Homo sapiens: one gene and its partners. The protein of the gene in region 1 interacts with the protein of each later gene in a pairwise test. Each region holds a gene or a part of one and is shown in the gene's direction. Other genes may lie near its edges.

The links. Proteins that work in one complex are often made in the same cells at the same time.
Region 2: the proteins of TMEM45B (region 1) and TMEM218 interact in binary tests that used the Homo sapiens proteins (3 or more experiments, as listed by UniProt).
Region 3: the proteins of TMEM45B (region 1) and TMEM254 interact in binary tests that used the Homo sapiens proteins (3 or more experiments, as listed by UniProt).

What each region holds. Positions count from the first base shown.
Region 1 is NC_000011.10:129,811,088-129,818,861, forward strand, and holds the start of TMEM45B (transmembrane protein 45B), read left to right. Parts: upstream 1-4,760; 5' UTR 4,761-4,811; exon of another isoform or gene 4,812-5,204; intron 5,205-7,774.
Region 2 is NC_000011.10:125,101,627-125,108,648, reverse strand, and holds part of TMEM218 (transmembrane protein 218), read left to right. Parts: intron 1-5,839; 5' UTR 5,840-5,915; exon of another isoform or gene 5,916-5,983; coding exon of another isoform or gene 5,984-6,012; intron 6,013-6,297; exon of another isoform or gene 6,298-6,331; coding exon of another isoform or gene 6,332-6,407; coding exon 6,408-6,517; intron 6,518-7,022. UniProt on the Homo sapiens protein: May be involved in ciliary biogenesis or function.
Region 3 is NC_000010.11:80,074,229-80,081,664, forward strand, and holds the start of TMEM254 (transmembrane protein 254), read left to right. Parts: upstream 1-4,436; 5' UTR 4,437-4,471; coding exon 4,472-4,558; exon of another isoform or gene 4,559-4,797; coding exon of another isoform or gene 4,798-4,956; exon of another isoform or gene 4,957-4,965; intron 4,966-5,016; exon of another isoform or gene 5,017-5,452; coding exon of another isoform or gene 5,453-5,464; intron 5,465-7,411; coding exon of another isoform or gene 7,412-7,436.

The sequences.
Region 1 (7,774 bases):
AACAAAGAAAGCAAAAACACAAATAGGGAAGGGGCACCCTATTCAACAAATGGTGCTGGGATAACTGTCTAGCCACATACAGAAGAATGAAACTGGATCCTCATCTCTTACCTTATACAGACATCAACTCAAGATGGATCAAACACTTAAATGTAAGACCTGAAACCATAAAAACTTTAGAAAATAACGCTGGAAAAACTCTTCTAGACATTGGCTTAGGCAAAGATTTTAAGACCAAAAACCCCAAAGCAAATCTAACAAAAACAAAAATAAATAGATATTACCTAATGAAAACACTTCGGCACAGCAAAATAATCAGCAGTGTAAACAGACACCTCACTGAATGGGAGAAAATATTCAACTATGCGTCCTACAAAGGACTAATATGCAGAATCTACAAGGAACTCAAATCAGTAAGAAAAAAAGAAATAATCCCATCAAAAAGTGGGCAAAGAACATGAATAGACAGTTCTCAAAAGAAGATACACAAATGACTAACACATGAAAAAGAATGCTCAACATCACTAATTATCAGGGAAATGCAGATTAAAACCACAATGAAATACCACCTTACTTCTGCAAGACTGGCCATAATTTACAAAGTCAAAAAATAGTAGATGTTTGCATAGATGTGATGAAAAGGGCACTTTTACACTGATGGTGGGAATATAAACTAGTACATCCACTGTGGAAAACTTTATGGAGATTCCTTAAAGAACTAAAAGTAAAACTACCATTTGATCCAGCAGTCCCACTATTGAGTATATATCCAGAAGAAAAGAAGTCATTATATGAAAAAGCCACTTGCATCTGCATGTTTATAGGAGCAAAATACACAATTGCAAAAATATGGAACCAGCCTAAATGCCCCTCGACTGACAAGTGGATAAAGAAAATGTGATATATTTACACCATGGAATACTACTCAGCCATAAAAAGGACTGAAGTAATGGCATTTGCAGCAATTTGTACGGGAGTTGGAGACCACTATTCCAAGTGAAGTAACTCAGGAATGGGAAACCAAATATCGTGTATGTTCTCACTTATAAGGGTTTGCTGAACTATGAGGATGCAAAGGCATAAGAATGATATAATGGGCCGGGTGCAGTGGCTCACAACTGTAATCCCAGCACTTTGGGAGGCCAAGGCAGGCGGATCATGAAGTCAGGAGATTGAGACCATCCTGGCTAACATGGTGAAACCCTGTCTCTACTAAAAATACAAAAAATTAGTCGTCGTGGCACGCGCCTGTAGTCCCAGCTACTCAGAGGTCTGAGGCAGGAGAATCGCTTGAACTTGGGAGGCAGAGGTTGCAGTGAGCTGAGATTGCGCCACTGCACTCTAGCCAGGGCGACAGAGCAAGACTGTCTCAAAAAAAAAAAAAAAATACATACATACATACATATATATATATATATATATATATATATATATATATAATGGACTTTGGGGACTCAAGGGAAAGTGGGAGGAGGGTGAGGGATAAAAGACTATACATTGGGTACAGTGTACACTGCTCAGGTGATGAGTACACAAAAATCTCAGAAATCACCACTAAATAACTTATCCATGTAACAAAAAAATGACCTGTTCCCCAAAAACTATTGCAATTTTTAAAAATGTAAACATTAGCCATGCGTGTTGATGCACACCTGTAGTCCCAGCTACTTAGGAAGCTGTGGCAAGAGTATCTCTTGAGCGTTGGAGGTCGAGGCTACAGTGAGCTATGATTGCACCACTGAACTTCATCCTGGGCAACAAAGTGAGCCCGTCTCAAACACACACACACACACACAACAAAAAATTGGTTTTGTCCTGGTACCTGGTTATTATAATTTGAAGCAGAAATTATTTTGTTTAGATTTTTTAATATTAAGAAGCATCTCCGTCGGGCGAGGTGGCTCACACCTCTAATCCCAGCACTTTAGGAGGCTGAGGTGGGCAGATCACCTGAGGTCGGGAGTTCAAGAACAGTCTGACAAACATGGAGAAACCCCGACTCTACTAAAAACACAAAATTAGCTGGGCATGGCGGCGCATGCCTGTGATCCCAGCTACTCAGGAGAGTGAGACACGAGAGTCACTTGAACCCAGGAGGCCAAGGTTGTGGTGAGCCGAGATCGCGCCATTGCACTCCAGCCTGGGCAACAAGAGCAAAACTGTCTCAAAAATAAAAAGTAAAAAAAAAAAAAGCATCTCTACTCACCATTAACTATACAATTAAGAGGTCACACCTTTGTTTCATCATCGTAGACAAGGTAAATATTACTAAAGAAAATGCCTGTCCATAAAAGGGATCTGGTGACAGAGGACAGCCTCTCCCAGAGTAACAGGCATCCAGGACTCCACTCTATCAACGATTTCTAAAACAATGGGTGTGAGCAAGGGCTAGGATGAGATGTGTGATTAAGTTCCTGAGCTGACGGCAAATTTAAAAGATGCCCTCTCAGCTCCTGGCTGCGGCCCATCCTCCCTGTAAGGTGCACGACTCCATGACGCTTTTCACTGACGGCACTACCTCTTGGCCATTACCACCTCCCACCAGATCCCATTCGCTCTGTTTTACCAGGGAAAGGTCTGCTCCAGTTAATGCCTTATCCTTCACAGTGATGTTCTTTGACTTTATAAAAACGGAGCCATTTGGTCAACAGGCTGCCCGTCGGATCCCGTGTCCTTCTGCACTGCTAATATCTAGCTGTGGCCCTGCTTTAAAACCCAAATGCAAACATCTCTTCCATGAAGCCCTTCCTGATTGCCAGTGCCCTCAACAGTGGAATAAGCTGCCAGGCATCTTAGAGATCTAGACCCGTGGTTCTCAACCCCCACTTCCCCAGGCCTCCTGAGAAGCTTTTAATAGGTGCATCAGCCCTGGATTCTTACCGGCAGGACTGAGAGGGAGCCTTAACGCTTGTGTTCTTCTAATAGTGTGCACAGGGTTGACGGGAAACACACACACACACAGTGCAGAACCATTCCACGAAGCTGTGTATCCGGAATTGGTTCCCTCTGAAGAGTTCCTGGTCCCGGTCCTGCCGCGGACCTTCACGGCATTATAGTTCTTAAACATGGTGTGTCCGGAGTTTGTTCCTTCAAATGTTCAGGTGTGTCCGAAGTTTTTTCTTTCTAGAGAGTTCGTGGTCTATGCACGACTTGATGAGTGAGGCCGCGGACCTTCGCAGGGAGTGTTACAGCTCTTAAAGGTGGCGCATCCGCGTTGTTCCTTCCTCCCAGCGGGTTCGTAGTTTCGCCGACCTCAGGAGTGAAGCCACAGACCTTCGCAGGGAGTGTTACACCTCTTAAAAGTGGTGCGTCTGGAGTTGTTTGCTCCTCCCTGTGGGTTCGTGGTGTCGCTGACTTCAGGAGTGAAGCCACAGACCTTCACAGTGAGTGTTATGGCTCTTAAAGGTGGCGGCTCCAGAGTTGTTTCTTGTGGTGGCTTCCTGGTCTCGCTGGTTTACAGGAGTGAACCTGCAGACCTTCACTGTGAGTGTTAAAGCTCATAAAGGTAGTGTGGACCTAAAAGGTGAGCAACAGCAAAATTTATTGCAAAGAGCGAAACAACAAAACCCCAACACCATCGAAGGGGACCCAAACGCAGCTGCCGCTGGCTCGGATGGCCAGCTTTTATTCCCTCATTGGCCCCGCCCACATCCTCCTGATTGGTCCTGCCCACATCCTCCTGATTGGTCCATTTTACAGAGCGCTGATTGGTCCATTTTACAGAGTGCTGATTGGTCCATTTTACAGAGTGCTGATTGGTCCGTTTTTACAGAGTGCTGATTGATGTGTTTACAAACCTTTAGCTAGACATAGAGCATTGATTGGTGCATTTACAATCCTTTGGCTAGAGAGAAAAGTTCTCCAAGTCCCCACCAATTAGCTGGACACAGAGCACTGATTGGTGCATTTTTACAGAGTGCTGATTGGTGTGTTTACAAACCTTTAGCTAGACACAGAGTGCAGATTGATGCTTTTACAATCCTTTAGCTAGACAGAAAAGTTCTCCAAGTCCCCATCCGACCCAGAAGCCCAGCGGGTTTCACCTCTCAGTAGCTTACAGAAGAGGACCCTGCTGCCACAGCACAATACCACAAAGAAAGTCATGCTCTCCTCAGCAGGTAGCCCCCTTCTCCGGGACAGGAACTTTGTTTCCTTCTTAGCTCTATCGCCAGCACCTAGAACAGTGCCCACCTGTCAGATCTGTTATCAGATGGGAACATGGCAGATTTGTTGAATGAATGAAGGAATGAATGAACTATGTGACACTCAAACTTAGCCACCAAACTTAAACTAAAAAAACTGGGTTGTGGTCCCTGATGGACCGTTGGCACCTTCTTCCTTTGCTGGACGGTGATCCGTGGCTGTTTCTGCGGTGTGTTCGCAGTGGTTGCCTGGCTTGGTAACAAACACTCTTCGGAGCCACAGCCTGTTCTCAGGGTCCTCGCCGCCTCCCAGGCCCTGCGATCTCTTTGCATCTCAGGAGGTCCAGGTTGGTTGCAGTCCTCTTGGGTGACTCAGGAACCAGCCTCTCCTGAAGCACACAGCTTAGGGAGTTCCTGAGGCCAGAGACATCTCCACGGGAAAGTCAAAGGCCTGGAGGAAGTGCGGACCTGACGACAGATGCCCCGCACGCTGGCCGGGACCGGGAAGGGCGGTCAAGGGTGGAAAGGGGCTGGCGGCTGCCAGGCCTGGCGGAGTGGAGCGGGGCGGGGCGCAGCGGGGCGGGGCGGGCCTGGAGCTGCACCTGCTTCTGGGCGGACGCACTTGGCGCGCGGCGCGGGCTGCAGACGGCTGCGAGGCGCTGGGCACAGGTCAGACGTCCGTACCCGCAGGGGGCTCGAACCTGGAGGAGGGCTCGAAGGGAGAGGGGGCCCCGCCAAGGAGCGGGGCTGTGATGGAGAGGAGGTTCCGACTCGCAGGGGACCTGCGGGGGAGGGGACGCGGACAGGGAGGGGCTCTGGGACAGGGGTGAAGGCTGCGCTAGGGGAGGACGGGAGGGGATGGAGGGCCCTGGTGTCGCGGAAGCCCAGCTGGGGCCCCCTCCGGGCTGCGGAACCGGTGCGCACACTACTCCCACCGCCCCCGAGTGCCTCTGTCCGGCTGGCCGCGGCCCTGGAACGAATATTGCTCAGTCCCCCGCGAGTCAGGTCTGCCGCGTTGCCCGGTGAGGGGAAGGTGTGAAGCCCCGGGCCTCCGTCTGCCCGGTGAGTCCGGGGACGCGCGCCCCCGGGGATGCCATCTGGCTCCTGGGCTGTGACCAGTCACAGCTCACATAGCTCTGGGCACTGGTACCGACTGCCTTTCCTTGTTAGCTGCGATACACAAATACACGAGCCAGATCCTTTCCTGAGGCCAGGAAGCCTGGAATCTAATAACACCGGGCGGTGGATAAAGTCCCCCGAGCCAGTGCTTAGCTTCCGTTAATGGAGCCATGGATGGAAGCGGATGTCAGGCGCAGTGGGGGAGAAATTTGCGGGGGTGGCCCTGTCTAGGGCCAGAGAAACAACCTCTGAAGCTTTGATCCAGCCCTAGAGGGAAGAAAGATGTGAGTTTCAGCCAGGGAAACGTAGCACTTTAAGAAATAGAAACCCTTTCAAAATTTGAGGGCAGGTAGCTCTCCTAAAAGTTGCAGAAATGGCCACTTCTTTTTTTTTTTTTTTTTTTTTTTGAGACGGAGTCTCGCTCTGTCGCCCAGGCTGGAGTGCAGTGGCGCAATCTCGGATCACTGCAAGCTCCACCTCCCGGGTTCACACCATTCTCCTGCCTCAGCCTCCCGAGTAGCTAGGACTACTGGCGCCCGCCACCACGCCCGGCTAATTTTTTGTATTTTTTTTTTTTTTGGTAGAGACGGGGTTTCACCGTGTTAGCCAGGATGGTCTCGATCTCCTGACCTCATGATCCACCCGCCTCAGCCTCCCAAAGTGCTGGGATTACAGGCGTGAACCACCGCGCCCAGCTAGAAATGGCCACTTCTTTCACGTTCTCTTCGACCGCTTTCTGCGGTGTCTGCCCTTTTCCTCCTCCTGCACCTTTTTGTCTCCTAGGGTCGCATAGCCTTCCAAACAGGCCTGCCTACAGCATTTTACCTGCAATTTTACACTCATTTTAATAGAAAGGATGGCTTATTGTTCATGAGAGACGTGTACTGTTTTTAACCAGATGTGTAATATCTTCAGTATAACCTGGATGTTGTGCAGTGGGAAGTTATGGAAAGAATCAGGACACGTGGTTAGGTAGGGGCCCAGGGGCGTCAGACTTAGCTCTTTGTGACAGTGAGCTTCTTGGTTTAATAAGGATATTGGCTCCCTCTGTTCCTGGGGTTTCTGGGAAAAGATATGGAACTGATATGAAGGTTTTATTGAATATGGCCCACTGATTTTACAAGTGGAGGTGACTGAGATAAGCAGAAGGTGAGGCATGACCTCTGGCTGTGCATTATTTGTTCTGATATTACAGGAGCCAAGCATTCCATTTCCTTCTTTTTAAAGAGCTTTGATTTCCTCTCACATCTTCATGAAGATGGAAACAGTGCCCCCACTTACTTATCCTCAGGCCACACCTGTTCCCATTTATTCCATGAGTTCCTCCCACACCCTTCTGGTTGATGTTGGTTGTGATGGTCGAGGTAATTGAATCTCACATTTGGCACCAGTTATTTCTGTTTCTCATCTCCCCCCTACCTGCAGTTAAACATCAGCTGCTATACTTAACTGTTCAAAGTACAGATGTTACCTGTGTTGGGTGTAATCAAAAGATTATCTCTTTTCCTCAAATGAAAAATGGGTGAGGACAGTTTCACCACACATAGAGTCACTCCCCTAGCCAAAGTCCTTGCTATTGCAAAACTTTTTACTGTAAGAGAATTAAAGTCACTAGTGTGTCATCAACTAATGGTACTTATAGACACATTCCATATTTGTTTCTATAGAAAGATCATAAGACAAACACTAGATTATTCCCAGTATGAGACCATACTGAATATGAACAATTAGAGGCCACAGGTGAGTGCTGTCCTCCTCACACTTTCTTTGAACTCTTAAGCTTCTACTCTTTTAACCAGCTACCCCTCTCCCCAAAACCTTCACTGAGGCTAGAAACAAACACAAATAGACTATTTGAATTTTAGCAAATTTTATCTCTCTTTTCTATTCTCTTGTGTAAAACTTAAATGGCCACAAGCTACACTACTGGAGGAAAAAGGAAAGCTAAAAGGTCTATCAGCCTTCTGTATGTGATGCAGAGTTCAACTGAATATAGCAAGGTACACACCCGCATTCTCCTTGCCAGGACTTAGATATCATAAGCCATTATCTTGCTGGTTGTTGAAATCATAATGGGGCTTTATAGAGCACAAGGCGATGTTTGTAAACAGCACTGTTCAGGTCAGATTAGAATCCGTATTTCAAAAATGAGGAGATGGAAACAGAGATATTGTGTATGTGGTCCAGGGTTAGCCAGTAATTAAATGGCAGAGCCAGAACTCAAACCAACATTCCTTCCAGAATACCACAGCTGCCTCTGGAGTGGTTTTTGTTGTTCTTGTTGAATTTTGTGATGGAAGATTGTGATTTGTTTTTCCCGAACACTTAATATGTTTTCTGACTTGAATTATCAGAATCTAAATTTAGAAACTCTCTCGTTTGGTATATTTCATGCCCATCTTTGTTCCATATAATTACAAAAATATCTTAGAGCTGAGTATAACCTTAAAGATTGTCAAGTCCAATCTTGTGGTTTTTCAAGGAAGAAAACCGGATTTAAGAAAAATAAAGCA
Region 2 (7,022 bases), 4.7 Mb from region 1:
TTTAACAAGAGTTGTTCATCACTCTAGCAAATCACATAACTGAAGGCAGCACAGCTCGTGGTATTTGAGTTGCCAGAACAACACACCTGCATAGTCTGCATTTGAAGCTTTTGCATTCATGGTGATTCTAAGTTTAGGTGCAAGCATCTGACTACTGTACTTCATTATGTATTCTAGTGTAGTCAGCCTGAACATTTGTATATTTAAACATATGCTATTTCATTACGAATTACTTTCCATTTAAAATCAACTTCTGTATATCATATAGAGATCTAGTTTTATTCTTTTCCTATTGGAGAATCATTTGTCCCAACACTATCTATGAAGTTCTTTACCCATTGAATCATAAAGCCAACTCTGTGCTGTAGGAAGTTCTCACAAATGCATGGATCTGTTTCTGGGTTCTTGATTTTATACCACTGGGCCATGTGTCTTTGTGCCACTATCACACTGTTTTAATTACTTTGGTTTTTCAATGTGTCTTGCGGCAGTTGGTAACAAGAAAGGCAAGTTGCCATCCTAGTTCTCAAAATTGTTTTGGCTATTCTTGGGTTTTTGCTCTTCCATATGAATTTAGGATCCGTTTTCAAGTTCCACAAAAAATTGTTTTTAGACTTTGGTTAGGATTGCATTGAATTTATAGGTTAAGGAAAATTGAGATTTTTTTAATTGAACCATCCCATCCGGGAACACAGGTTATTTCTCTGTTCAGGTCTGCTTTATTTCTTTATTCAGGTCCTCTCTCTCTCTTTTTTTTTTTTTTGTCTTTGATAAAGTTTTATAATTTTAGCTATACAAATCTTACTCATCTTTTATATTCATATTTATGCAGATATATATATATATATACACACATATCCACATCTTTTTATTATGAAAGTTTAAAATATATTCAGAAATATAGAAAATAGGCTAGCAAACATCTACACACTCATCACCCAGCTTCAACAACTAGCTCATGACCAGTCTTGTTTCATGTCAGCCCCTTCACCTCCTCTCACTGAGGTAATAGAAAGCTCCTAGAAACCCTTTTCTGTTATCTGTAATGTGCTACGTGTGTATGCATATATCTTTATCATAAATAATCTTTTAACAATATAATAATATCATCTTTTTAATAGTGTTTTTTCACTGAAAATACAAACAGTAATTTCATAATATTATCAAATATCTGAATATTCTTCAGATTTCCCCAATCATTTCATAAAAGGTTTTTGCAATGCTTCGTTCGAATCAGGACCAAATAAGGGTCCATATACTACACATGGCTGATACATCTCTTAATATTCTTTCTGTAAACATTTTAGTGAAGGGTAATACACATACAGAAAAGTATATAAATCCTAAGTGCATGGTTAGATACAACATCACCGTATGAACAAACCCAGGTGAACAAAACCCAGATCAAGAAACAGAATTTTATCAGCATCTCCCTGAACCTCCTACAGTCACTATGTTTCACAAGCCAACCATACGCCTGACCTCCAGCCCCTAAAATTAGTTTGACCTGTTTTGAACATTATATAAATGGACTCATATACTATGAACTCTTTAGCCTCTAGCTTTTTTCATTTAATATTTGTGAAATTCATCCACATTGTTGAGTATAGTTGTAGTGTGTTCTTTCTCATTGCTTTATACTATTCTCATTGCTTTATACTACATAATGCTTTATATACTGTATGAATGAATAGATTGTAGAGTACTATATCCACTCTATTGGCAGATATTTGGATTGTTTAAGGTTTTAGCTATTTCAGGTAGGGCTGCAATGTCTTTTTTTTGAATTTAGGTGTGCGTTTCTGTTGGGAATACACCTAAGAATAGAAGAGCTGGATGTAGGATGCATTTATATTTAGCTTTATTAGATACTGCCAATAGTCTCCAAAGCAGTGGTTAACAAATTATGGCCCTTGCCAGCCGTATATGAGGGTTCCAGTTACTCCACATCTTTGTCAACACTTGCTGTTGTCTGTTGTTTTCATGTTAGCCATTCTGGTGGGTATATGAAGGCACTGAATTTGGTTTTAATTTGCAATTTCCGGATGACTAATGAAGTTGAGCACCTTTTTACATATTTATTCTCATTCAGGTATCCTCTTTCTCAAGTGTTTATTCTTTTTTTATCTGCTTGATCTATCAGTTTCTGAGACATATATTAAAATCTCCTGCTAAATTAGTGGTTTTATACATTTATTGTAGTACTTCTGTCAGTTTTGGCTTTATATATTTGGAGGTTTTGTTGTTAGGTTCACATTTGTTTCAGGTTGTATCTTTTTACTGAATGGTTCCTTTTGTCACTGTTCTTAATATTTTTCAGAGCTTTACATCTGTTTTGCGTGGTACTAATATTGCTTCATAGCTTATATTTTATTTTGTTTCACTTGGTTTTTTTTCAACTGTGGCTTATAAAAAAACAAAAACAAAAACAAAAAAACAGAATTTCCTGTCTTAACCATTTTTAAGAGTGCAGATCAGCAGTGTTAAGTATATTCACAGTGTTGTGAAACAGAGCTCCAAGATGCTTTCATCTTGCAAAACTGAAACTCTATACTCATTCACCATCTCCCTATTCCCTCCTTCCCTGGTTTTTGTCTTGTTAATATTTGCTTTGCATGTCTTTCTCAATCTCTTTATTTTCAGCCTCTCATTATACTTTCTGTAGAGCTTTTGTACACAGCTATTTTTAAAAAGAAAAATCTAAGAGAATTTCTTTTAGTAGTCAAATATAATGTTTCCATGTACTATGATTACTGTTGTATTTGGGTTTATTTTTACAATCTTATTTTGTATTTTCCATTTTCCTTGCGTATTCTTTGTTCTGCCACCCACCTCACACCCACTGACCCTTGCCCCACTTTCTGTTTTCTTTATTTTTTTTTCACTTTACTAGTATAGAAGCTATTTTTTCTATTTCTGTTGCTTGCTGTTTACCTGTATGTTTTTTTAACTTGTGTACTTAGCTTAAAAAACATATACCTCCTCCAAAACAAAATCACTGTAGAATGCTTTAACTTTGAACTATCCTTTTCCATCTACCATATAACTGTTGAGTAATATTTAGTCCTTTCTGATTTTTAACCCCTCAAAAATTGTCATTATTACAGAAATCTTTACTGTCAATATTTCTTAATAATTTTCTCACCATGCTTCCTGTATCTCATACCTCCTTTCTTGGTTCATTTTCCTTCTTGCTGAAGTATGTCTCTGAGTAGCCCTTTCACTGAGGATCCTTGAGAGGTGTACTACATTTCACCCTTTGTATGTCTGAAAACATCTTTGTTTTACACTTACTCTTGAGGGAGTCTTGCATGCCAGCCTGTGGGTTTAGTTTTGTCTCTGCTGGGATCCAATGGGTTCTCACTTTTAGTCTAGTTTTCATGTTAATCTTTCTATTTGGGATTCCCATATCACATCGGTAGTATTGAATCTCACACATGGATATGATGTGAGGTGGGGATTCAGATTTCTCTTGGGCTGTTGTTTTTTGACCTGTGGCCTGAAGCACTCAGCCAGCTTCCTTCCAACTAAGTCAGTAGCAAATTATTTAGACCCTATTTCAAAAACTGGTCAATCCTGTGAGGGCCCAGCTTTCTGCATTGTTCTCATTGCTAGTTCTTTGCCATCGTGGGCTTGAGACCTTATCTGCCCTGAAGAGAATCACCCTGAAGGTCTGTATCAGGCACCAGGACCCTCGTAGACTTTTAGGCTCAGCTCAGGCCTTGAGTTACATTTTTTTATAGCACTTAATGATTTTTCTTTATTGCTTTCGAGCTCTGCTGTGTACTAAATTCTTCTTGTTCTATTTTATTGAACATTTATGTGTTTGCTGTTGTATGAGGCACTTCCCTTGTTAACTTCCATCCAGCATATTGACCAGAGGTTACAGTCATCTTTCTAAAACTCCATATGATCCTTTCACTCCCTCACCTGATGTTTGTGGACTTGTTAGCACTGTGTCATTTATTCCTCCCACAGATACTTGTTGTGCATAATCTCTGTGCTAAGAACTGGGGTTACCACAGTGAGAAAGATATCAGGTCTCTGCCTTCGTGGAGTTTACTATTCTAGTTGGACAGACAGAAAATAAACTTGTAAACAAATAAATGAAAATATTAACTAGTTTTGTGAAAAATGCTCTGAAGGAAATAGAGTGATGGAGAGTCAGTGTTTGAGGGGTTACTTTAGAGAAGACACTCGGGGAAGACCTCACTGAAGAGTGACATTTAAGCAGAAATCAGAAGGCTGAGGAAAGCCAGTCCTACAAATAGTAGCAGGAGTGCTTGGGGTTGAGGGCTAGTTCCAGGCAGTGGAAACAGCAAGTACAAAGACCCAGAGATGGGGAAACCCCGGGCGTGTTAGAGTGACCGAGATGGCGCCCATGTGGCCCTAATGAGGGCAGACTGCTCCCCAGAGAAGTTAGGCATGCAGGTGGGCCCCAGGTCCCATCTCCCCTCACTCTGTCATCTTTTCACTCTGATTCTTTCCTAAATGTGCCTGTGCAGAGTATTTCCTTTGTAAAGCCCCTCTCACTATTGCAGTTCCCACTGCACTTCGCTTTTACCATTAATCAGAATGTAATATGGACACTTGTTTTCAGGACAATGTTCTCCAATAGACCTTGAGCTTCTGTCAGAAGATATCTTATTCACCTTTGGCATCCCCAGCTTGTAGCGCAGTGCTTTACATGGTGGGAACATCATAAATGTTGATTCAATAAACGTATTTTTTTTACCAGTTCATGCTTAGACCCTCCTTTCCAATAACTTTATAACTTCTCATAGCTAATATTTTCGTGGTATTTAAACCATAAGGGTAAAGAAAACCAGCAACCTAGAGGAATGTGTTTGCTTAAGACTTGTCTCCAATGCTGAAAAGGAAAACCAGGAGAGGTAGTGTGGTGTGCTGTTCCTCTGCTGTGAGTTGAATGGTGGTCCCCAAAAATATATGTCCGCATCCTCACCCCTGGAATCTGTGACCATGACCTTGTTTGACAAAAGGGTCTTTGCAGATTTAATTAAGTTAAGCATCTCAAGATAATACTAGATTATTTGTACAGACCCTAAATCCAATGACAAGTACCGTTATAAGAGACAGAAAATGTGAAGACAGACACAGGAGAATGCCATGGGAAGATGGAGGCAGAGACTGGAGTTGTGAGTTAAAAGCCAGTGAATGGTGCCTGGAGCTACCAGAAGATGGAAGAGGCAGGGAAAGATTCTCCCCTAGAGCACTGATCCCCAATCTTTTTGGTACCAGGGACTGGTTTCATGGAAGACAGTTTTTCCACAGGGGGATGCAGGGGGGTGGTTTCCGGATGAAACTGTTCCACCTCAGATCTTCAGGCATTAGATTCTCATAAGGAGCCTGCAACCTAGATGCTTCGCACGTGCAGTCCACACTAGGGTTCGTGCTCCTGTGAGAACCTAATGCCGCTGCCACTGATAGGACAGGAGGCGAAGCTCAGGTGGTAAGGCTGGCTTGCCTGCTGCTCACCTCCTCCTGTGCGGCCCAGTTCCTAAAAGGCCATGGACCAGTACCAGTCCATGGCCCAGGGGTTGGGGACCCCTGCCCTAGAGCCTTTGGAGGGAGCACAGCCCTGCTGACACCTTTATTTTGGATTGCTGGCCTGTGAGAAAATAAATTTCTATTTTGAGCTGCTAATTAGGAAACTAATAGATACCCCATCGCGCTTATATCTCACTTACCCATCCTGTAACATGGCTATAGTAATACCTTTCTCAGAAGCTTCGCTCCGGGATTCAATGAGATATGTTTGTACGGCACTTAGCACACAGTGAATGTTCAAAAATAGTGATGGCTGTTCCTCTTCTTTAAGGACTGGGAGTTTTCATCCTCTTGAATAAGAACTCGACAACAGAGTGGGAACTTTCTGTCTTGTGATCCATTGCCTGGTGAGTCACAGCTCACACCATGGATTTAACCTGAGAGCTTCAACTTCTGCTTTGGCCCTGGAGTTCCCATGCCCTGGTGTCTTCTACCAGTTCTTAGGTAGGGTTTTATATTCAGAGAGGGTTCAGCTTTCTCCCGTGGGCTGGGGGAAGAGGTCAAAGTAGAACTCAGGTACCAAATTTGAAAGGAAACACTCAGAAAAAACTTCTGAGCGCAGAGCGGAAAACACCCTCTCAGTCCCCACCAAAGAGAAAGGCTTTGGGTTCTAAATTTCCAGTTTCCATTAAGGGACTCTGGGACTGGACATTTCTGAAAATTAATGACCTGTACTGAGTAATCCTCCTAACACACTGATCATCAAAAAATAACCTGTAATGAGTTTAGGCTTTCTGTATTTGTCTGAATGCTTTCACGGGAGTGTGTTGCACTGGAGCACAGAGGACACTCGATCGTGCGGCGCGCAGGGCGGGGGGCCGCCGCTGCCTCCCCGCGGGATGGCTGGCACTGTGCTCGGAGTCGGTGCGGGCGTGTTCATCTTAGCCCTGCTCTGGGTGGCAGTGCTGCTGCTGTGTGTGCTGCTGTCCAGAGCCTCCGGGGCGGCGAGGTAAGGCATTCTGTCCAACTGGGAGTCCTAGGTAAAGCAATTAGAGGCAAAATCGCTGATGCTCACTAAACATTTAGAATTTAAGAGATCAGTTTTGTAATTACTGGCAGTTTGAATGAGTTGCATTTTAACCTCTTTTTATAAACACTAACTGTGTTATTTATGCTCTGGAGCAGAGATGGGAGGAGAAGGAAGTAGTGTTCTTGAGTTCTAACTGTGGCAAGAAACTCTGCTTTCACTGCTTATTGAGTTTCTTGAGGCTGTATGTGTATGTGTTTATGAATTGTTCAGATTTATGGCAGAGGCTTGGTCCAGTACCCGAGGCTCTAGCCCTGGACCCAGGAAAACGAAAGCAACATTTGATGAGTTGGGCCTGCTTTCTATATCAGGCATTGCCTTCAGAACAGGGTTAGGCCATAAACCGACTCTGAAAACACTAGAGTTGCACTCTGGCAAGACAGTGTTAGTATGAAGCAGAGAGTTGTAGAATTTTCTAAAGTATTCT
Region 3 (7,436 bases), on another chromosome or scaffold:
CTCATCATAACTCCCCAAGGAGGACTACTTATTAATACCTCTGTATCTCTTGATACTGCATCATTTGTGTATTTGTGTTTGGGAGTGGACAGTATTATTTAAAATATTTTTTCTGGAATAGATAACTAATTGCCCCAAAATAATTTACTGAATAATCCATTATTCCTTCCTTAATTTGAAATGTTACCTTTATTATAAAATAAACGCTTGGATATGTATATACCAGATCCATGTCTGGAGTCTGCATTATTTTTTCATTGATCCATTTGTTGATTTCTGCATGTCAAGTGCCAAATGTTTTACATTATTATAGCTCTTTACAGTGTGTCTTGATATCTAGTAGGCCAATCTTATGAGGAAAAACAATGTTATTTTTGCTTTATTTTGCGTATCCCATAGGGCCATTAAGATTGAACCATCCTTTCATTTTGCTTGGTCTCAAGTTTTCTCTTTTGAGGATGCCCAATTCATATCCTTTAATCATTTGTCAATTACATATATTGGAGAATTCCTTCTTCCAGGTATTTCAACTTTATTTACAGTGTCATTCATATGAATGAAGCTTTTCATCTGGATGCAGTTAAATTTTCAATCTTTCCTTCTATGGCTTTTAATTTTAATAACTTGCTAAAAGGTTTCCTTCCCCTCCCTCAAAAGTTGTAAAACTATTCTCCCAGACTTTCTTCATTATTTTTCATATTTAGGTCACTAATCCATCTAGACAGGGGGATAAAAATGTCCAGGGATGAGATATTTCTCTGCCAATTCAGATGGGACAGCAGTGTAGGGTGCCTGGACCTTAGAGAATTCAGTCACCCCTGCCGTGTGTGAAGGGTGACTGTAATGAAGAAAGGAATGCCTTCTGAACATCCAGTTGACTGTAAGTTCTTCATGAATTTACATAAACTACTCACATCTGAACAAAGATCTTCTGGTACTGTCTTCTGGATTCCTTATCTGTGCGTGAGGGGCTAACAGTAAGATGTTTAGTGTTGAGCTGTTGGTGGCCAGGTACAGCCTCTAACTATAATCCCAGCACTTTGGGAGGCTGAGGTGGAAGGATTACTTAAGGCTGGGAGTTTGAGATCTGCCTGGGCAACATAGTGAAGCACCGTCTCTATTAAAAAAAAAAAAAATAGTGTGGAGTTGGAAGACATAGGACACTAAGTAACAGGCTGGGCTCCAAGCAGGGTTGTAGAAGACATGAAACTAAAACCTAGCTCCCTGTAGTCTGTTGACTGAAGCCATTTTGCCTCTCCAACATTTCTTGTAGCATGAATAATTTCTCCAATATCTCCCTCGTTGCAGATTTAATACCTAAATAGAAATACTGAAAAACGGCAGCCTAAAATTGGGGAAGTTCTTGAAACTTTTGGTAAGGTAGGCTGGGTATGGTGGCTCACACCTGTAATCTCAGCACTTGGGGAAGCCAAGGCAGGTGGATCACCTGAGGTCAGGAGTTTGAGACCAGCCTGGTCAACATGGCGAAACCCCATCTCTACTAAAAATACAAAAAATTAGCTGGGTGTGGTGGCATGTGACTGTAGTCCCAGCTACTAGAGAGAGTGTGGCAGGAGAATCACTTGAACCCAGAAGGCCAAGGTTGCAGTGAGCTGAGATTGCGCCATTGCACTACAATCTGAGCAATAGAGTGAGACTCTGTCTCAAAAAAAAAAAAAAGTTTTGGTATGGTAAAGGCTTGATCAGAACTGTACTTGAAAAAGATGATCCTGTTATTTGTCAGACAGATTCAATAAAGGGACTGCATGTGGGCTGAAGTGGCAGGAAGTAGGAAGGAGTGACTGACTCATGAGACAGTGGAGATGAAGCCATGATTTAATCTAGAAGGATTAGATATTGTATTACCCAATCAGTAGAACTCTTGACAGCTGATTAGTCTGCAATCTTTATATGATATGGGGGAAGTCAAAGCAAGGAATCTGGGTACAAGGTAGAAAGAAAGTGCTGTTCACATAGAGTAGGCCGGGCGAGGTGGCTCATACTTGTAATCCCAACACTTTGGGAGGCCGAGGCAGGCAGATCACCTGAGGTCAGGAGTTCGAGACCAGCCTGGCCAACATGGTGAAACCCCGTCTCCACAATTAGCCAAGCGTGGTGGTGCACACCTGTAATCCAAGCTACTCAGGAGGCTGAGACAGGGGAATCACTTGAAGTGGGGAGGCAGAGGTTGCAGTGAGCCGAGATCGCAACACTGCACTCCAGCCTGGGCAACAAGAGCAAAACTCCATCTCAAAAAAAAAAAAAAAAAAAAAAAAAACCACAGACAGGGTAGCCTTGGTGAGGATGGACTCTGTGGATAATGATAATGGACTTCTTGTCTTTGAGGTGTGAGTAATCTTTGGTAAAGGTGACCAACTGGGAAGAGGTGAGGGCTGAAGAGATTATTTTAGTCAGCTGAAGGTGAAAATTGAATCTGATAGGTACTGAAAACACAAAGAAGATAATAAGCAAAACTTATTCTAGGAGAGAAGAAAGAAAAGGAAAGCTGAGAAAACAAGGAGTTATTCAGAAGGAGGAGAAGAATAAAGAGGGTGGTGTGATCAAGGATGATAAGGACTAAGAAAACACCAATTGTTACAATTGTTACTGTTAATCTTGATATTCAAGAGCACTGTGGTCTACCTGGGAAATGGATTTCCTCACATATTCTGAAATTCATTCTTTAAGACTTTATATCCCAAGATACTCACGTAAAAAATGAGGAAAGAGAACCTTGGTTGGTTCCAGAGTGCCCTCTCTGGAACTGGAACACTCAGCTGCCAATTGTTTTCCAGTATTCCTCACCCACTTGGGCATGACAGGACCCTGTGCTGTTTCTTCTTCTTTGAAATAAGGACAATAGTTTACTGCCTAGGATTGTTTTAAGAATTAAATTAGTTAATTATTGTATAGTACTTAGAACAATGCCTTGAACATAGTAGGTGTTCAATAAATACCAGCTACAGTATAGTAACTTTTTTTTTTTTTTTTTGACGGAGTCTCACTCTATAGCCCAAGCTGAAGTGCAGTGATTGGATCTCGGCTCACTGCAACCTCCGCCTCCGGTGCTCAAGCAATTCTCGTGCCTCAGCCTCCCAAGTAGTTGGGACTATAGACACGCGCCACCACCCCCAGCTAATTTTTTGTATTTTAGTAGAGACAGGGTTTCACCATGTTCTCCAGGGTGGTCTCGAACTCCTGAGCGATCCACCCACCTCGGCCTCCAAAAGTGCCAGGATTATAGGCTTGAGCCACTGCGCTTGGCCAGTAACCCATTTTTAAGGCCCAGGTGAAATAGTTTTTCTATTTCTATGATTTTCTATTTCTATGATTAAATAGTGTTTAATCAGACACTTCAGCTGCATATACCTCCCACAGCTCATTGATGATACAACAGTTCGCACAGGGCCTGGCACACATGCTAAAGGCTCAGCAGTATTGATAATCACCCACACTTACAAAGCACTATGGGCCAGACACTGCTGTGCTTTCTTTACAGATATCAACTCATTTAACCCACCCTAAAAACCCTGAGGTTCCCAAAACTGGCATATCCTCATGTTACAGATACAGAAACTAAGACACAGCCGGGCTAAGTAATTAATCTAAGCTTACACAAATAGCCGAGACAGAGCCAGGACTTAAATCCAGGCAGCCTGTTTCACAGTCCCTGCTCATAACCATGGTGCTGTATAGTTCCAAACATCTTAACTAATGAGGACAGCATTATTTCTCAAGGTGCACAGCACAGAGAACTTCAAAAATTAGACTCTTAGTAAAACACCATCTTTTTTTTTTTTTTTTGAGACAGGGTCTTGCTGTGTTGCCCAGGCTGGAGTGCAGTGGCGTGATCTGGGCCCACTGCAACCTGCACCTCTCAGGTTCAAGAGAGTCTTGTCTCAGCCTCTGGAGTTGCTGGGACTACAGGCAGGCACCACCGCGCCCAGCAAATTTTTTGTATTTTTAGTACAGACGGGGTTTCACCATGTTGACCACGCTGGTCTCAAACTCCTGACCTCAAGTGATCTGCCCGACTCGGCCTCCCAAATTGCTGGAATTTATTCCAACACCTCATTCATTCATTCATTCATTCGAGACAGAGTCTAGCTATGTTACCCGGGCTGGTCTCAAACTCCTGGGCTCAAGGGATCTTTCTACCTCAGCCTCCCAACGTGCTGAGATTACAGGGACACGCCACCGCGCCAGCCCGAACATCTTTATCTTAAACCCAGAAAAGTGACAGGAGTGTCTCCCCTACAAGATGATGACCAGCCCTCCAGACCTGAGCCCAGGTGTGATTCCAAGGCCCCTGTACTGGGGCCAGACAGGGAGACTCGCTCTCAGGGACTTCCCAACCAGCACCATCTTCTCCCTGCGGGGATGGCGAGGGAGCGCGGGCCGGCCCCGGCCCTGCCTCCGCGCTCGCGCTCGACGGTGTCCTGAAGCGCGCTCCCGGGGAGGTGTTGCAGCCATGGCTACGGCAGCCGGCGCGACCTACTTTCAGCGAGGCAGTCTGTTCTGGTTCACAGTCATCACCCTCAGCTTTGGCTACTACACAGTAAGGACAGCCGCTGGAGCGCTACGGTCTGACGAACGAGCGAGCGCTCGGTTCACCCCAGGACCTGGGCTCACAGGCCGCGGGCCGGGGGAAGTCGTGCAAGCACAATCCCGACTCCCGCGCGCTAGGAGCGGAGGGGAGGGGACCAGACTCCGCAATGAGAGCAAGCATACTGGTCCGCCAGGGTCTTGGGCGGGCGCCCAGGGCCCTGAGAAACCGGCTAGCCAGGCTTTTCTTATATGGGGGCGGGGACGGCTGGGGAGCTCCCAGCCAACTCTGTGTCTGGGTTTTTCAAGAGGATGGTGAAGTCGGAGGCCAGCAATGCGGCTACCGCCTATTTCCGTCCAGCAAGACCCTTGCCCTCTCTGGTCACAGTCCTGGGGCTGGGCTACTTCGCGGTGAGGCGTGGGGTGGGGCGGGGCGGGCCTCTGTTTTGGCCCGCCGGGCCCTCGTAGGGCGAGGGGAGCTCTGGGAACGGGGCCTGTGCGCACGCGCATCTGACGGTTGTCTCGGTTACTCATGTAAGCGGAAATTCGGTGGGCTCTTAGGATAGTTTCTGCTTTCTAGTGTTCCTGTCTTTGGGTCCTCACCTCTGCATGGTTACTAACGGGTTATCCGAGCCTAAGCCTCTCACGAAGCGGAAAGTCAAGTTAACAGACTGCCATAGGCCTGCCAAGTCAGAATAGGGCTTCCGAAGCAGAATGTTTGAGCCAATAGGAATTGTTTGGAAAACGGGGATAAATCTAAAGGATGGGTAGGATTTAAGTGGTAAGGGAGGATAAAGAGGCTATAACTGTTCTGACATAGGTGTGGAAGCAAGAAGAAAGCTGTACCTAGAAAAAGAGCGACGTTTGTTTGGCTGAGAAATAATCTGTTTAAAGGATAACGAGAAAGATGCGTGGAAAAGTAGGTTGGGGGCTAAGGTGGTAGTTTTGTGTTTTTTTGAGACGGAGTCTCGCTCTGTCACCCAGGCTGGAGTGCAGTGGGGCGATCTCGGCTCACTGCAACCTCTGCTTCCCAGGTTCAAGCGATTCTCATGTCTTTACCTGTAGCTGGGATTACACTATGCCCAGCTATTTTTTTGTGTTTTTAGTAGACATGGGTATTGGTGAGGCTGGCCTCGAACTCCTAACGTCAAGTGATAAGGTGGTAAAATTTTGAAGGAAGGCGAAGCTATTTGGGTATACCAATAGATCCTGGAGATTGGAGATTTGTCTTGTCCACAGTGTTGTTTGTTGGTGTCAAATCTGACAACCTATGTCCTGATTTCCCCATATGTACAATGGAGGTGTTGAACTGAAAATTTTCAAAGGTGCATTTCTGTTCTACGATTTAGTGTCTGTGACTAGTTAGAATATAGTTGGAGGAAAGCTTTGGGGACTTCAAATTGGGATCTTGTGGAGCTGGCAGATGCTCCCCTTTCCCTTTGGTTTGGGAGGATGCAGTGATATTTGTGCATTATTTAACTTTCAGATGTGAAACAACATCGTGAGAGAGGTAGTACTGCTCTTGACAAAGATTTGAATGGGACAATACATTTTGAAACTGTTGAGTTATTCTCAGAAAAGTCTTAGCTGACAGAAGTTACAATACAGAGGCTGAAAGTTAAGATTACGAAAAATTTATGTGATTAAGCAGTTGCTATTAAAATGTCACAACCTTATCTCACTTATTTTCCATCTCTATGCAGTGGATCATTCTCAGTTTTAGCCGTACAAAAAGGGAAAGCCGAGAAAGGAATTCTAAATTAAACAGAGGTTTGGCTGGAGCCAGTTTCTGCAGTAAAGAAACTAGCCAAAGCACATAAACTCAAAATTTGCTAATATCTTTTATAAAATAATGGTTTTGGTGGAATGTATTAATAGGAGTCAGCCAGGCATGGTGGTTCACCCCTGTAATCCCAGCACTTTGGGAGGCCGAGGCGGGCAAATCGCTTGAGCCCAGGAGTTCGAGACCATCCTGGGCAACATGGCAAAACCTCATCTCTACACACACACACACACACAAAATTAGCCATGGGCAGTGGCTCACACCTGTAATCCCAGCACTTTGAGAAGCCGAGAAGGGCGGATCACCTGATGTCAGGAGTTGGAGATCAGCCTGGCCAACATGGTGAAACTCTGTCTGTATTAAAAATACAAAAATTAGCTGGGCGTGGTGGCATGCACCTGTAGTCCCAGCTACTCTGGAGGCTGAGACAGGAGAGTCGTTTGAATCCGCGAGGCGGAGGTTACAGAGAGCCGAGATCGTGCCACTGCACTCCAGCCTAAGCGACAGAGTGAAACTCCATCTAAAATAAATAAATAAATAAATAAATTAGTCAGTCGTGGTAGCCATGCCTGTATTCCAGCTACTTGGGGAAGCTGAGTTGGGAGGATCGCTTGAGCCCGGGAAGTCAAGGGTGCAGTGAGCCGTGATCAGGCCACTGCACTCAAGCCTGGGTGACAAAGCGAGATCCCTTCTCTACAAAGAAAACAAAAGAAGAAAAGGAAGAAAAAAAGACTTTAAGAGTCATCCACCGTGGGCACTGAGTCTGATAACCACATACTTTCCTCAGCATAAGTCTCCCAGTAGAGTTGCTTTTAGAAAATAGAAGTCATCCTGGCACAGTAGGTCATGCCTGTAATCCCAGCACTTTGGGAGGCCAAGATTGGAGAATTGCTTGAGCCCTGGAGTTGGAAACCATCCTGGGCAACATAGTGAGACCCCATCTCTATATACAATTTTTAAAAGTAGCTGGGCATGGTGGCACACACGTGTAGTCCCATCTACTTGGGAGGCTGAGGTGGGAGGATGGATTGAGCCCAGATGGTGGAGGCTGCAGTGAGTCATGATCATGCCACTGCACTCCAGCCCCAGCAGCGGAGTGAGACCCTGT